Homo sapiens: one gene and its partner. The protein of the gene in region 1 interacts with the protein of each later gene in a pairwise test. Each region holds a gene or a part of one and is shown on either strand. Other genes may lie near its edges. The genes, in order: KIAA1958 and FAM124B.

Region 1 (3,822 bases):
TATTCAAAATCATAATAATAATGGGTAAACTTTGCCTGAAGCGTGGACAGCCTTCCTCAAAGAAGTCTTGGGAAATTCTGTTATGTCAGAATACACATATCAGACGGAGGAACTTCCAGAGATGTTCATTTAGTTATCATACCCCATGGCCTCCTCTTCTCTTAGAAAGGGAGGGCAGCGGTAGGTCACCACAAATCCCTCCCTCCTCCTGTTTTAATAAGGGTGATTCATTTATATGGGAAAATGCAACAAAGATTTTTACTGAGGAACACTGCCTACAAGATGGAATGTTTTTCTTTTAACACAGAGTATTAAAAATTCACTCCAAAAACAAAAGCATTCAAAAATATATACAAGTTTGAAACATTTAATACATACTTCTGTTCAGAGCTGTTACCAGCTTTTAACTATGTATGGGCCTTATCTGAGACTACATTGGAGATCATGTAGAGAAAATGAGGTAACTCTTCTTTGAGGTCTTCACTGTTTGCATTCATTGATGCTTAAAGGTAACGTCTACTAGCTCAAAAGTTTTTAGCAATCTACATCTCATAAAAGCAACAAAGTGATGGATGTTTGATAAGGATAATATTTAGCATTCGGTTACTTTATTTAAGTGGTAATGGTGTGGACTGTGTTAGCCTAAACTGAGAAAAATGATCAATATTCTGCTGCTTCGAGATAGCAAAATAATTTTAGAAGTTGTGGAACTTGAAAATTAAAGGAAAGTCTTATTCCTAAAGAAGGCATCCCAATATAGTGAGAAGCACTTAATTAGGAGACTAACTATCTTCAGGAATTAGGAATTTTGTGTCCTAGCTCTGCCACTTCCTAATTAATATGAACTTGAGGAATTGCAGAAGTGTAACACGGTTCACCGTGAAGACGATCCATCCCACTGATGGCACTTTATAGCTAAGCAAAGTGATATCGGCATTTGCCCAAGTGAGGAGTGAAGTAGCTCTGAGTCCAGTTATCTTTCAAGTACAGCAAGATGCTTCCGTTTCTACAAGAGTATTACTTTGTCCAGATTCTCCTAATGACTATGTCTATGAAAATGCTGAGTGTGGCATATAATGCTTGATGCTTTTAATAAGCTTGAATTAAAATAAAAATCAAAGTAACAAAATTTCACATTTCTTCAAACACCATTTATCAGCCAGGGCAAATTAATGTAGCATAAAATCCAAGGAAAGCTGGAAAATGCCACATGACCAAGGAGACCCTTCTGTCACAGCTTTGGTTAGGTACTTCCATAAAATTCCTTTTTGCAAACACACTAAACAATGGAAAAACCTTCTCATAAAGCCCCATAAGGCTTTTCTGTTCTTCCTTCACTTGTTTTTGCTTATATCTGAGGTATCAGAGCTTGGCTGTGTTGGAGGTAGAATTCATGGGCGAAAATGTGTTAACTTGACCAGATTATCATGTTTGGTTTCTTCTTCAAGTTTAACAGTTTAAGGGAGACAGAATCTCCATAATGGAAGAAATAAGTGGTATAATGCAAATTAGTTAAATAATATTAATTATTACCAAAAGTTATAACTAAGCTGGCTAACATTTATTGCATGCTTATGATGTGCCTGGTACCGCACTAAACTATATTCAATTGAATCACACCCTTTAAGGTGACATCCTAGCTTCTGTGCCAGAGTAAGCTTCCAACAGGGAGTCTGCTTAGATTCCGGGGGCCGGCGGTGGGGGGGATAGACAGAAAGTAGGGCTCCCTTTACAGCAGATATGAAAGGTGCTGTGGACAACAGCTCACCTGAAGGACACCCTATGGGTCCTCTCATAACACCTACAGTACCACCAGCCTTGACACAGAGCCCAGGGGCAACTTGTGCTTCAGTCAACCTGTGAATTCTTGATATTTATTTCTACTTGGGAGCATAAAAAACCCAAAGGTAAGTGGAGAAAACGCTCTTTACCTCCCCACTTCTTTCTCTGGGGATTCTCCTTTCTCTTGCATTAGGCCAAGAGCAGAAAATCCTGGAGTCCCCAGAAGGTAAGGTTTAGAGCTGACTGGAAGCCAGAACAACTGCCTTAGAACGCCAACGAGGACTGCTACTCTGGCCCCCTTAAGACCTCGGAGGACGGCTTTGGCCAAACACATGGACAGGTGCTTCGCCATTTTATTTTTTATTTTTTTTGAGATGGAGTCTAGCTTTGTTGCCCAGGCTGGAGTGCAGTGGCATGGTCTCGGCTCACTGCAACCTCCGCCTCCCAGGTTCAAGCAATTCTCCTGCTTCAGACTCTCAAGTAGCTGGGATTACAGGCACCTGCCACCACGCCCGGCTAATTTTTGTATTTTTAGTAGAGATGGGGTTTCACCATGTTGGTCCTGATCTTGAACTCCTGACCTCAAGTGATCTGCCCACCTTGGCCTCCCAAAGTGCTGGGATTATAGGCGTGAGCCACGCGCCAGGCCGCTTTGCCATTTTAGCAGGCTTACCAGGCTTAACCACATATTGTGCGTGTGTGTGTGTAAACACTTATGTATATGTGTTTGTGTGTATACACAGACACACACACATATACATAAATGCATAATAAAGTACCTAGTACAATGGGTGGCACACGCTGGCACTTGATGACTGTGTTTTCTTCCTCACTCTTGTTTCCCAAGGTGGCATGTCACAAACAGCTTTTAGGCTGCTCAGACACAGTTCTTTCATTCCATCAGATGCCACTGAAGATTCGCCCTCCTGATTATTAATTATAATAATTCACTTCAGAACCCAGGGATTTTATGGAACATCAACTAGGTGACAGGCAACACATTTGAGGCAGAGATGATTATTTAGCTGATGAAAAGCCACTACCAACAGAAAGATTACAACCTCTGGAGTAGTTATTGCTACCTTTGAAAAGGTCAAAATCCGAAAAGATCCCAGTGATTCCTAACGGCAATTTCTACTTGAATCTATTCAAATAAAAATGGAGGTTTTAATTAATTAGGCTGCAGGCTTTGCCCAATAGTTCACATAGGTTGTATTTCAGTTTAAGTGCAGAACCAACAAAACAAAATATCCTTTGGGTGTTTAGCAAACTAAAGGAAATTGTACCTAATGTTTTGTGTATTTCTTTTAAATCAAAACCCTAAGATCACTACAGGAAACCACACCAGAACGTTATGTGATATCAAGTCATACACTGATGATTAAATATTACCTGTTATTTATATACAGATGGAGAAATGCCGAAACTAATCTCTATTCAGGAAAGGTCAACTAGTAAACAAACTTATAAATGCACAGTGACTAAAAAGGGAATAACATTAAATCTTAAGGCAGCATTGGTTGAGTCTTCTCTGGTAAAGGAAGTATTACATATGTCAATGACTAGTGTATGATTTTTTAAGAAACCAATTAATTAAAATAAATACTAAAATAATGTTTTCAAAAAGAAAGAGGACTGATTTTAAGACTTCTACAAAATGAATTTGTATTAGAGTTTTAATTTGGGATTAGAAAGCATATTAGGAGCATAATGGAATAAAGTTACACAAGATTTTCCTCAAATGCAAAGTCAAGGTCCCTAGAAATTATTGTTACTCTTAATGAGCACTCTTTGAGCTCCTTTTTCACTTGTTGTTGCACTCAGAGTAGTTATTAGAAAATTCTGCTGATTTTTAAATAATGTGGTCAGGTTGCATTTTACCTGAGTGAAATGGTTTCAAACTGCATTACCTACCATTATGCGCTAATTTTATAACTACATCCTTAATGCTGAGTTTGCTTACCTGGTGGGGTGCCTAAATCATCGTGTCCCAAGTATTGGTGCCATCCTAAAATGATGACATGTAATTGTGGCTGAAAA
Region 2 (3,822 bases), on another chromosome or scaffold:
CTAAGAATTGAGACAGCAGAATTAAAACTGCCAAAGGAAAAACAATGTCTGGCCCAGAGCAAGAACTCAACAAAGTTCTGAGGAATGAATAAACATGGACTTGCCTTCTCATGTACTCATACATTCATTTACTGAACATCTATTTGATATGCTCATATCGCTGTCATCAAAACCACCCATTCTAGACTCTGAGAGGCATCAGACTGTCTGCAATGGCAAGAGGTCATGTGGAAAACGCATTGCTCACTGGGCGCGCTGGCAGAGACAGCTGACAGCCTCTCACATGCACAGATCACAATTGCACCGCAGTTACATGGTCTCCAGGAGCTTCTACTTTACCAAGCACCACCATGTACATTCTCTCATTTGACCCTCATAACACAAATAATCCATGTCAGTTCCATTCATAGGACTCATCAGTGACTGCTCATTTCACCAAGGATAGAATAGAAGCTACTTAGCCAGGGTTCATTTGTAGAAGGATGTTTTTGCCTACCATGTGCCAGACACTGACCTTAGGTTCTAGGTTCACAGGAGTGAGCCCAAAAAGTCCCCCCGCTCTTGGTACTTACATTCCAGTGGCTGACCACATTCCCACTGATCTAGCCTCAGGCCACCTGCCCATCCTCTTCCCCTGACTCCCCCTCCCTTCACTCCAGCCACATGAAACCTCAGGAAGTTTGCTGAGCATGGCCTGCTAAGCAGCACCACACCAACATCGTCACCCACGGTCACCTGTTTGAGACACCCTTGCTCCCTTCTCCAACTGGCTAATTCCTCCTGGGCCACCCAGCTCACGCAGATCTGGGCATTGCTACTCAGGAAAGCTTTCTCACTGCCCCTCCTCGGCCTAGCTCCCCTCACACTCAGGTCTTCTGCACACACGCCTCCATCCTGGCCATGTGGAGGGATGGTCTGCAGAGAGGTTAGTTTGTGGTTATGGTTCTTCCTTTAATAGGTATAATTTTCTTACTTTTGCTGAACATCAGCCATTTGGGACCACTCTGTATTTGTCTCCTCCGCCCTGATCTTCTCTGGAGACCCACAACCTTCCCTAAAAGTCCCACAGAACACCACACAGCATCTAGGGGTAGAAGCCAGAGCCTTTGCCTCGGGGCTAAACTGATCCATATAATCTCACTTTCCTGCACGTAATAATTGATTTAGAGAAGAGAATCTGATCCTAGTTGGTCTAACTGAAGTCCAGACATTTTGTTGCGCCATGGTGGGGCAAGGCACTTGGAATCCACATGAAGGATGTAACCCTCAGAGCTGCTAGCAGCCAGCTGGCGACCCTGGCGGATGCCTGGCTGAGGATAGGGCCAAGACAGTGATAACAGAGCTGGGATCTGGATCCTGAGCACACTGTGTAAGGCCTGGACTACTCACTTACAGAAGCCAGACTCGCTACCCAGCCCCTCTCCCCAGGACCCAAGGAAGTTTAGGCTGGATTTTCTTTTCTTTTCTTCTCTTCTCTCCTCTTTTCTTCTTTTCGAAACAGAGTGATATGGTTTGGCTGTGTCCTCACCCAAATTTCATATTGAATTATAACTGCCACAATTCCCATGTGTCGTGGGAGGAACCCAGTGGGAGGTGATTGAATTATGGGAGTGGGTCTTTCCTGTGCTGTTCTCGTGATAGAGAATGAGTCTCATGAGATCTGATGGTTTTAAAGATGAGAGTTCTCTGCACAAGCCCTCTCTTTGCCACCTACTGCTATCCATGTAAGATGTGACTTGCTCCTCTTTGCCTTCCGCCATGATTTTGAGGCCTCCCCAGCCACATGGAACTATGAGTTCATTAAACCTCTTCTTTTGTAAATTGCCCAGTCTCGGGTATGTCTTTATCAGCAGCGTGAAAACAAACTAATAGAGTAAATTGGTATCAGTAGAGTGGGGCATTGCTGAACAGATACCTGAAAATGTGGAAGCGACTTTGGAACTGGGTAACAGGCAGAGGTTGGAACAGTCTGGAGGGCTCAGAAGACAGGAAAATGTGGGAAAGTTTGGAACTTCCTAGAGATTTGTTGAATGACTTTGACAAAAATGCTGATAGTGATATGAACAATAAGGTCTAGGCTGAGGTGGTCTTAGATGGAGATGAGGAGCTTATTGGGAACTGGAACAAAGGTGACTCTCATTATGTTTTAGCAAAGAAACTGGCGGCATTTTGCCCCTGCCCTAGAGATTTGTGGAACTTTGAACTTGAGGGAGATGATTTAGGGTATCTGGCAGAAGAAATTTTTAAGCAGCAAAGCATTCAAGAGGTGACTGGGGTGCTATTTAAGGCATGAGTGAACAGTGAATTAATTCACTCATAGTAAATGAGTCTCCCAATATCTGATGGTTTTAAAAACAAGAGTTTTCTGCACAAGCTCTCTTTGTCTGCCGCCATCCATGTAAGATGCGACTGCTCCTCCTTGCCTTCTGCATGATTGTGAGGCTTCCCAAGCCACGTGGAACTGTGAGTCCAATTAAACCTCTTTCTTTTGTAAATTTCCCAGTCTCCAGCCTGTCTTTATCAGCAGTGTGAAACAGACTAATACACAGAGTCTTGCTCTGTCATCTAGGCTGGAGTTCACTGGCACAATCTCGGCTCACTGCATCCTCTGCCTCCCTGGTTCAAGCGATTCTCCTGCTTCAGCCTCCCGAGTAGCTGGGACTACGGGTGCACACCATCATGCCCAGCTAGTTTTTGTATTTTCAGTAGACAGGGGGATTTACCATGTTGGCCAGGCTGGTCTCAAGCTCCTGGCCTCAAGTGATCCACCTGCCTCAGCCTCCCAAAGTGCTAGTATTACAGGCCTGAGCCACCACGCCCAAGAATTTTCTATCCTGAAAAATTCACTCCATTCAAAGAATCAAAAGCTATCTAGGAGCTACAATGTGTTGTCTTTGGATTATGGCTGAGCCTTTACACACTTTCCTCAGGCACTTTTATTATATGACACCAGAAGCAGAATTTTCCAGAAGGCGATCTCTCACTCTGTTTGCAAAAGCTTAGACTCATTGACTTAACAAGAGGAGATCAAAGCGTGTTTTGGAGTGAGGAAGCAGAAGTCTCTGAGGTTTGGAGGTCAGGACAAAGGTGATGTCCAAGGGGGCTATCAAGAGTGAGAGGCAGCTGGGCGTGGTAGCTCATGCCTATAATCCCAGCACTTTGGGAGGCTGAGGCAGGTGGTCACTTGAGGCCAGATGTTTGAGACCAGCCTGGGCAACATAGTGAAACCCCATCTCCACTAAAAATACAAAAATTAGCTGGGCATGTTGGCAGGCACCTGTAGTCTCAGCCACTTGGGAAAGCTGAGGCACAAGAATTGCTTGAACCCGGGAGGCAGAGGTTGCAGTGAGCTGAGATCACACCATTGCACTCCAGCCTGAGCAACAGAGAGAGACTCTGTCTCAAAAACAAAAGAGTGAGGGGCTGATGCCCCATTCACACCTGAGAAGTGGCCAGGCTCCTGGGACAATCCAGAGAGGAAGAGGGCTCTTTTCATACAATTCATGGAGTTTCTCTTTATCCAAAAAACTCTTCTACACTCCCCAAATGTGACTCAACTTTCCAAAGTAACTAAGTTGTTTAAACTGTGGTTCCATAGCAAAAATGTCAGTCAGCCTTAAAGACAGGAATGATTAAAATCATGTCCCTTGCTGCACACACACATTACATTTTTGTTTGACCATGAGGTTGATTTTAAGTACTAGAGAGTCGCTAAAACTGAAAGAAATTTTAGATGCCTTGGAAATTATGGGGTTTTATAATAGGCAACTAACAGAAACAGTGCCTGTCTACCTTATGTGAGCAAGAAGGTGAATAATTTAG

What was found.
Region 2: the proteins of KIAA1958 (region 1) and FAM124B interact in binary tests that used the Homo sapiens proteins (3 or more experiments, as listed by UniProt).

What each region holds. Positions count from the first base shown.
Region 1 is NC_000009.12:112,661,123-112,664,944, reverse strand, and holds part of KIAA1958 (uncharacterized protein KIAA1958), read right to left. Parts: 3' UTR 1-3,822.
Region 2 is NC_000002.12:224,395,574-224,399,395, forward strand, and holds part of FAM124B (protein FAM124B), read right to left. Parts: intron 1-3,822.